Homo sapiens: one gene and its partner. The protein of the gene in region 1 interacts with the protein of each later gene in a pairwise test. Each region holds a gene or a part of one and is shown in the gene's direction. Other genes may lie near its edges.

Evidence for each region.
Region 2: the proteins of CROCC (region 1) and RNF152 interact in a two-hybrid assay, tested with the Homo sapiens proteins (one large-scale study listed by BioGRID and IntAct).

The regions. Positions count from the first base shown.
Region 1 is NC_000001.11:16,966,617-16,970,197, forward strand, and holds part of CROCC (rootletin), read left to right. Parts: intron 1-1,586; coding exon 1,587-1,802; intron 1,803-2,499; coding exon 2,500-2,724; intron 2,725-3,168; coding exon 3,169-3,318; intron 3,319-3,581. UniProt on the Homo sapiens protein: Major structural component of the ciliary rootlet, a cytoskeletal-like structure in ciliated cells which originates from the basal body at the proximal end of a cilium and extends proximally toward the cell nucleus.
Region 2 is NC_000018.10:61,816,212-61,820,025, reverse strand, and holds part of RNF152 (E3 ubiquitin-protein ligase RNF152), read left to right. Parts: intron 1-3,427; 5' UTR 3,428-3,562; coding exon 3,563-3,814. UniProt on the Homo sapiens protein: E3 ubiquitin-protein ligase that acts as a negative regulator of mTORC1 signaling by mediating ubiquitination of RagA/RRAGA and RHEB.

The DNA.
Region 1 (3,581 bases):
CCCGAGTGAGTGTCTAACTCTTATGTGTGTCTCCCTGTGTCTGTCTGCCTGAGTCTCTCTGCAACCCACTGAGGTGACCAGCCTGTGACTCTGTGAAACCATGTTCAGACTCCATCCTCTCATGTCACTTGTGGTCACTAGGCTGTAGAAAAAAGAGCTTGGTCAAGGTGCAGTAGCTCATGCCTGTAATCCTAGCACTTTGGGAGGTCGAGGCAGGTGGATCCCTTGAGCACAGGAGTTTGAGACCAGCCTGGGCAACATGGTGAAACCCCGTCTCTATGAAAAATACTTAGCTGGGCATGGTGGTGTGGGCCTGTAGTCCCAGCTACTCGGGAGGCTGAGGTGGGAAGATCACTGGAGCCCGGTAGGTCGAGGCTGCAATGAGCTGTGATCATGCCACTGCACTCTAGCAAGGCAGAGTGAGACCCTGTAAAAAAGAAAAGAAAAAAAAAAGAAGAAGAAGAAGAAAAGAAAGAGAGCTTGGGCTTTGGGCTGTCATCTGCCTGGTTTTCATTTTCCTAATCTGTAAAAGGAGGAGCAGTGATTACGTCACAGGGTGACACACACAGGCTCTTATCACAGGTGGTACTCAGGGGGCCTCTGTTTTATGTCTCTGTAGTTCTGGGGTTTTTATGTGTGTTTGGGGGACAGCTATGTGTGCCAGTGTGTATGTGCGTCTGTCGGGCAGGAAACTCAGGCCCTGGTGGTGACAGTGCAGCCAAAGCTCCCCTCTGCCCTCCCCAGCCTGTCCCTCTATTACTGCTTCCCCCCACCACCCCCGCCCCCAAGGCCTCTGGCCTGGGGCCGAGCTTAGCTGGATTGTTGTGTCTGCGGCTTCAACCCTGGCCATGGGCCCAGCCGCAGGGGCTGCAGGAGGAGGCCAGGAACAAAGCTGGGCAGGAGCCAGAGTGGGGGCCCCAGACAGGGCAGGGCTGGGGCTCTGGGCAGGGTGGCAGAGGGGCCAGGCTCAGGATAGGGGCTGGGGAGGCTCTAATAACACCCCCTGTTGATCCACCCTGTCTCTAGGATAGTACCAGGGATGGGAGGACCCCTAGTCTGCCTTCCTGTCCCATCCCCACTCCCCAGGCCTTTTTCACTGGCTGACCCTGGGCAGGGGAGGGGGAATCACCACCTGAAACCCTAGAACAGCAGGGCCCCCTCAGAACTGTCCGGCTCAGCTCAGTTTGCACGAGTCAGTGGGGCAGGAGAAGGGCCTTGGAATCTGCATTTCTACAGCCCCTCCTCAGGGCTCCTGTGAGCACCCAGGTTGTGGTACCCTGGGACCAATCCAGTGTCCCTACTGTACAGATATGAAATGGGGCCATAGGGCGCGAAGGGGCAGTCCTGGGTTCCACAGCCCATTGGCCTGGGCTAAAACTGGAAGGTGGGCTCTGGGATCTTCACGTCCACTCATCCTGGGAACGCATGGGGAGACCGAGGACCCCAGAGGGTCCCAGGCCGGCCCCAGGTCACGTAGGTCACCCTTCGAGGCTGCTCCCCACTTTCCCCCTAAGGGCCCCAGGGCGTGTGCGGGAGGGCTGCGGGGTGCACTGGACGTCTGGGCCTGAGCCCCATGCCACCTGCAGGAGAAGATCAGCAAGATGAAGGCCAATGAGACAAAGCTGGAGGGCGACAAGCGGCGCCTGAAGGAGGTTCTGGACGCCTCCGAGAGCCGCACTGTCAAGCTGGAGCTGCAGCGGCGCTCGCTTGAGGGGGAGCTGCAGCGCAGCCGCCTGGGCCTCAGTGACCGCGAGGCCCAAGCCCAGGCCCTCCAGGATCGGGTGGATTCCCTGCAGAGACAGGTGGGCCCCTCCCCAAATCACAGCCACAGTGTTCACATGCCCTGTGCCAAGAGCTTTGTAGGCACTACGCAGTCCCCCAACAACCCTGTGAGGCAAGTATTACCCACATCCCCATTTCACAGATGGACAAATGGAGGCTGAGAGGTGATGTCATTGTCTAAGATCCCATAGCTAGTAAGAGGCAGAGCCAAAATTAGAATTCAGGACTATTTGATGACAGCATCTGCATACATAGGAGTCATCTGGGACAAGTTAGAGATGTAGGTTTCACTCATTTCCCTTTTTGCCTTGACTGCTAGGAAGCTCAGCTCTAACTGGAATGTTAAATAATACGGCTAGCCTTGCCTGAACACCCAACAAGGTCAAAAATAAAAAAATTTTAGGGTCGTGGTGGTTTCCCTTTCTCTTCCACAGCAGAGAGGAGAGAGGAGTGAGGACAGGGAGGAGACCAGGGAGTCTGAGACAACTAGGTTGATGGCACTCTGGGCACTAGTAGTTAGCCAGCAATGGGATGGGGCCCAGGTGGCAGTAGGCTGAGCCAGCAGGAGTGCTTAGGAACACTGGGTCTCAATGATGGAGGCCCAGAGAGAAGTGGGAAGGGTGTGGATTGGGCATGCCAGGTGGAGGTCACAGTGGGAGCAGAGGTATAGAGGCCAGATGGGAACAGCCCCGATTGTTCTGGCTGTCCTCCTGCCAGGTGGCCGACAGCGAGGTGAAGGCAGGGACCCTGCAGCTGACCGTGGAGCGGCTGAATGGGGCCCTGGCTAAGGTGGAGGAAAGCGAGGGGGCCCTGCGGGACAAGGTGCGGGGCCTGACAGAGGCCCTGGCCCAGAGCAGTGCCAGCCTCAACAGCACCCGGGACAAGAACCTGCATCTGCAGAAGGCTCTGACCGCCTGTGAACATGACCGCCAAGTACTCCAGGTCTCGGGCCCAGGGTCTGGCTGGGGTGGGCCCAGTGAGAGAGTCAGCCAGTAAGAGCAGGCTTGGAGGGGGGCCCTGGTAGAGAGCCAGCCAATGGGGCAGTCAGTTGGAGCCAATGAGAGCAGGCTTTGAAGGGAGGGCGTGGGCCCAGTAGACCATCAGCCAAGGAGAAGAGGCTCTGGGTATGTCCCGTAAGAAGACAAGGCTACTGGTATAGACTTGGGGGGACCCAGGGGCAGGGTTTATTGGGGAGAGTTGGGGTCTGAGTGGGTCCCACCTTATGCAGGTCAGTGGATAGGCCGTGGATGGGTTTGGTGTGCACCCCACCCTCCAGGTGAGATGACTGCCTGTTTTATGCTCTGTGGACCTGTCCAGAGGTACAGAATAGAGAGGACTCCTTAGGGCTCCCAGGCCAGCCAGGCACCATCAGCCCCTGTCCCCCAGGAACGGCTGGATGCCGCCCGGCAGGCATTATCTGAGGCACGGAAGCAGAGCAGCTCCCTGGGCGAGCAGGTGCAGACGTTGCGAGGCGAGGTGGCTGACCTGGAACTGCAGCGGGTGGAGGCCGAGGGCCAGCTACAACAGCTACGGGAGGTGAGGGCCAGGGTGTGCCCCCTCTGTCCCCAAGACTGTGAGGCCCTAGGATAGGGTGGGGACGTTCCCACCCATCTCAACCTCATCCCAAACCCTGGTGCAGCCTCCAGTAAGGAAACATGGTTCATTCAGAGCATAGTCCTGTTATACAGATGGAGAAACAGACTGAGAGAGACAGGTTTGGCTTCAGGTGACAATTCTCTGATGTGGGCCTCACCGTCGCCTGCTCTGTGAGTGGGCCAGCCTCATTGTCCCCAAGCTTC
Region 2 (3,814 bases), on another chromosome or scaffold:
TTTTTGAGATAGTGTCCCACTCTGTCATTCAGGCTGGAGTGCAGTGGTGCGATGTTGCCTCACTGCAATCTCCGCCTCCCGGGTTTAAGTGATTATCCTGCCTCAGCCTCCTGAGTAGCTGGGATTACAGGTGTCCACCACCACACCCAGCTAATTTTTTTATTTTTAGTAGAGACAGAGTCTCGTTATGTTGACTAGGCTGGTCTCAAACTCCTGGCCTCAAGTGATCCACCTGCCTTGGCCTCCCAAAGTGCTGAGATTACAGGCGTGAGCCACTGTGCCTGACCTTCTCTTTGACTCTTTAATATCTTCCTAAATAACTTAAATACCTTCCCCAGCACCTCCAGTGGAATATGGCCTGAACAGAACTCATTGTATTTCTCTTCATGATCCCTATTTCTCATAATGATATTACCTTCCTCTAAAGGCTTCATTTTTGGCTTCTTTCACTGTACAACCTCATTGCAATACCCTGCAAGATCCTGCTGGAATTCTGTGAACCTCTTCTCACATCTCATCATTCTGTCCTAATCATCACTATTCACTTCAGCTACTCATTTAACTCTTGCCTAATGTAATAGCCTCCCAATAGGTCTTTCCAGTCTACCCTTGAATGAATTGTTCTGCTACTCTTAACCTTTCTGGTGTTTTCCCATTGCTCACTCTAAACTCCTGAATCCTTGGCCTGGCACTGGGGGCTGCCCACGGTCCACAGTCTCTGGCCTGTGCCTGACTAAGCTCATTTCTCCCCTCCCTGTGGGATCTGCTATCCCTGGTTGGGTCTGGGGAGAGTGCTTGCAGGTTCTCTGAGAGTTTTATTTCTTTAAAAGACATCTGTATCAGAGACTGTAAGGGCTAAAACGATCAAACTCTTAGAGAAGACTTCTGTAAGTTGCTCTAGTATTAGAAACAATCCTCTAGCCAGTGTCCCAGGTAGAATAGAAAATAATTCTGTAATCGCTTACCTTCTTTCCTTTGCTCATGCTGATTCCATAACCTGAAAATAGCCTGTCCCCTGATTTTTTGTGTCTAATTCGATAATCCAGATTTTTCACTAAATTCCCCCTGATTCCTTCGGCTCCCTTAGGGTACCTTGTATTTACGTTACAATTGTCTAAGTACTTAGCGCTCCCATCTCTAGGCCAGGACTTTCTTATGGGCAATGACAAGATCTTAGTTACAAGGGACAAAAAGGAACATCACGCTTGACACATAGTAGATATGCAATGAAAATTTGAATGAATAAATGAATGAAAGAAAAAATATATTCGTGTGTTCCTTCTTACCTAGGTTTAAGTTGTTTTCGGGTAGAATCTGGGTCTGATTTATATCCTACAGTATTTAGCTTTGTGCTTTGTGCATAATAGATATTCCATAAATATTTTTTGAATTAGTGGATAGCTATGTAGTTGATCCTGATATGAACTTCCTGAATGCTACATTACTGTATTTCACTTTCAGTAACTTAAGTGTTTCTAATATAGCTAATGTATTTTAAAGTATGTTGATCTTTTCATTGTTACTAGTTTTTAACAGTGGTTATTTTTGTCTTTGAACTGGTTTGCTTTTTCTTGTTTTTTGTTTTTTGTTTTTTTTTTAATTTGAGACAGGGTCTCATTCTGTCATCCAGGCTGGAGTGCAGTGGTGCAAACACGGCTCACTGCAGCCTCAACCTCCCAGGCTCAGGTGGTCCTCCCACCTCAGCCTACTGAGTAGCCGGGACTAGAGGTGCTTGCCACCATGCCTGGCTAGTTTTTGTATTTTTTGTAGAGATAGGGTTTCACCATGTTGCCCAGGCTGGTCTCAAACTCCTGAGCTCAAACGATTCCCCCTCCTCGGCCTCCCAAAGTGCTGGGATTGCAGGTGTGAGCCCCCACGCCGGCCAGGTTGGTTTTTGGTGCATTCTTAATTTTGATTGTTAACACATTATATATCATGATGGGGGAGTGCTTTCTTAATTTCACAAAGGAAATTGGAAAGGAAAAAGAAGGGTCACTTTTAAGACAAATGTGAAGGAGTGTTATAGCTCCCATCTCTAGGTGTTGGTGGGGTTCTAGGACTAGCAATTTTTTCTGCAATAGTGGTTGAGTAATTCTTTCTAGAGTCATCATGGCTCCATCCAGGGACACATAATTTGGATGCTTTCAATGGGAAACTGAGTCAGGCAGCCCTTACTGAAATGCCAGTGGAGCGTTAGAGGACATTCCCAAACTTCAGTGAAGTTGAACTAAGTTTCTCTGCCTCCCCTCCATACCAGGATGCTAACACTTTTTTTTTTTTTTTACAATGAGGAATGCTTGCCAGACTTCCCTGTCAACCTTTAACTATAGAATATTTGATTTCAATTAGTGAATTAATGGTTCAGTCATCTCTCTATCTGAGGGCATTGGTTCCAGGACCCCCATGTATACCAAAACCTGTGAATACTCAAGGCCCACAGTTGGTGCTATAAAACCCAAGAATATGAAAAGATGGCCCTCGGTATACAGGGGCTTTGCATCCTGAGAACGCTGTATTTTTGATGTCATTTGGTCGCAGATGCAGAACCCACTCATAGAAAGGGCTGACCGTATCTATTCAAAAAATTCGTACTTAAGTGGATCCATGTGGTTCAAACCTGTGTTGTTCATGGGTCAATCGTACTTGCTTTTAGTTGTGTTACTTGGTACAAGCCTAAGTAGTAATGAAACAAAAAGAACTGACTGGAAAATGTCAGTGATGCCTTTGTGATGAGTGTGCCTTTGTGATCCACACTGCCTTAAGCTTCACTGCTGCTTTTGGTTTTGTTGCTGTTTGGGGTTTTTTGTTTTGTTCTCTTCAAATGATTTGTTGGGAAAGATGAAAGATGCCTTCGTGTGCTTCTTCTGCAGTGTCACTTTACTTCTCTGTGAAGAGGAACAATCCTAACCCATATATGTAAACTGAGCGAGTTAGTTATAGGAAGTACCTAGGTTTGTGAAGTTGCCTAAATCTTGCAATTAAGACTTACAAGTGGGTAAGTAGAGTCAGGAAAAAAGGTCAGAGGATCTAAGGAGAGAAATTTACTTCTAGGAAATACTATGAACTTATTGGAAGCAGGAAAGTTTCTCTAGTATATTTTAGAAGGATGACCCAGAGCTTGCTTAAATGTACAAAACAGAAACAAAAGACGCCCTCTTTATGAAATACAGATGCATCGTCTACAACTATTGGAGTTGTTCATTTTTTTAGAAATGAACTAAGTATTTGCCATGACATGCTCTCTGAGACAACTTTCATTCGCCTTTCACTGGGCGTTATGGGAATCCTGTAGTCTCAAGACTGGTAAATTTTTAGGCTTTTGGCCCAGTGTCAAGACTTTTGAGCAATGGTATAAATCCATTAGATATGTTGACATCTCAACTTCTTTGAAATAATTAAGATTGTTTGCATTATTTGTCTCTCTCAGAAATGAACACACCTGTGAGTACTGGATGCCTGTGAGCTTGCCATTACCTGCACTGCAAAGACACAGGGCGGTGGCCTCTGAGAAGCAGCTCCTTCCCCTTCACCTTGGCCTTGCCCTTCCTGCTCACGGTCCACCATGGAGACGCTGTCCCAGGACTCTCTGCTGGAATGTCAGATCTGTTTCAATTACTACAGCCCCCGGCGCAGGCCCAAGTTGCTGGACTGCAAGCACACCTGCTGTTCAGTGTGCCTGCAGCAGATGAGGACCAGCCAGAAGGATGTGCGGTGCCCCTGGTGCCGCGGTGTCACCAAGCTGCCTCCCGGCTTCTCCGTGTCGCAGCTCCCGGACGACCCGGAGGTCCTGGCTGTCATCGCCATTCCACACACT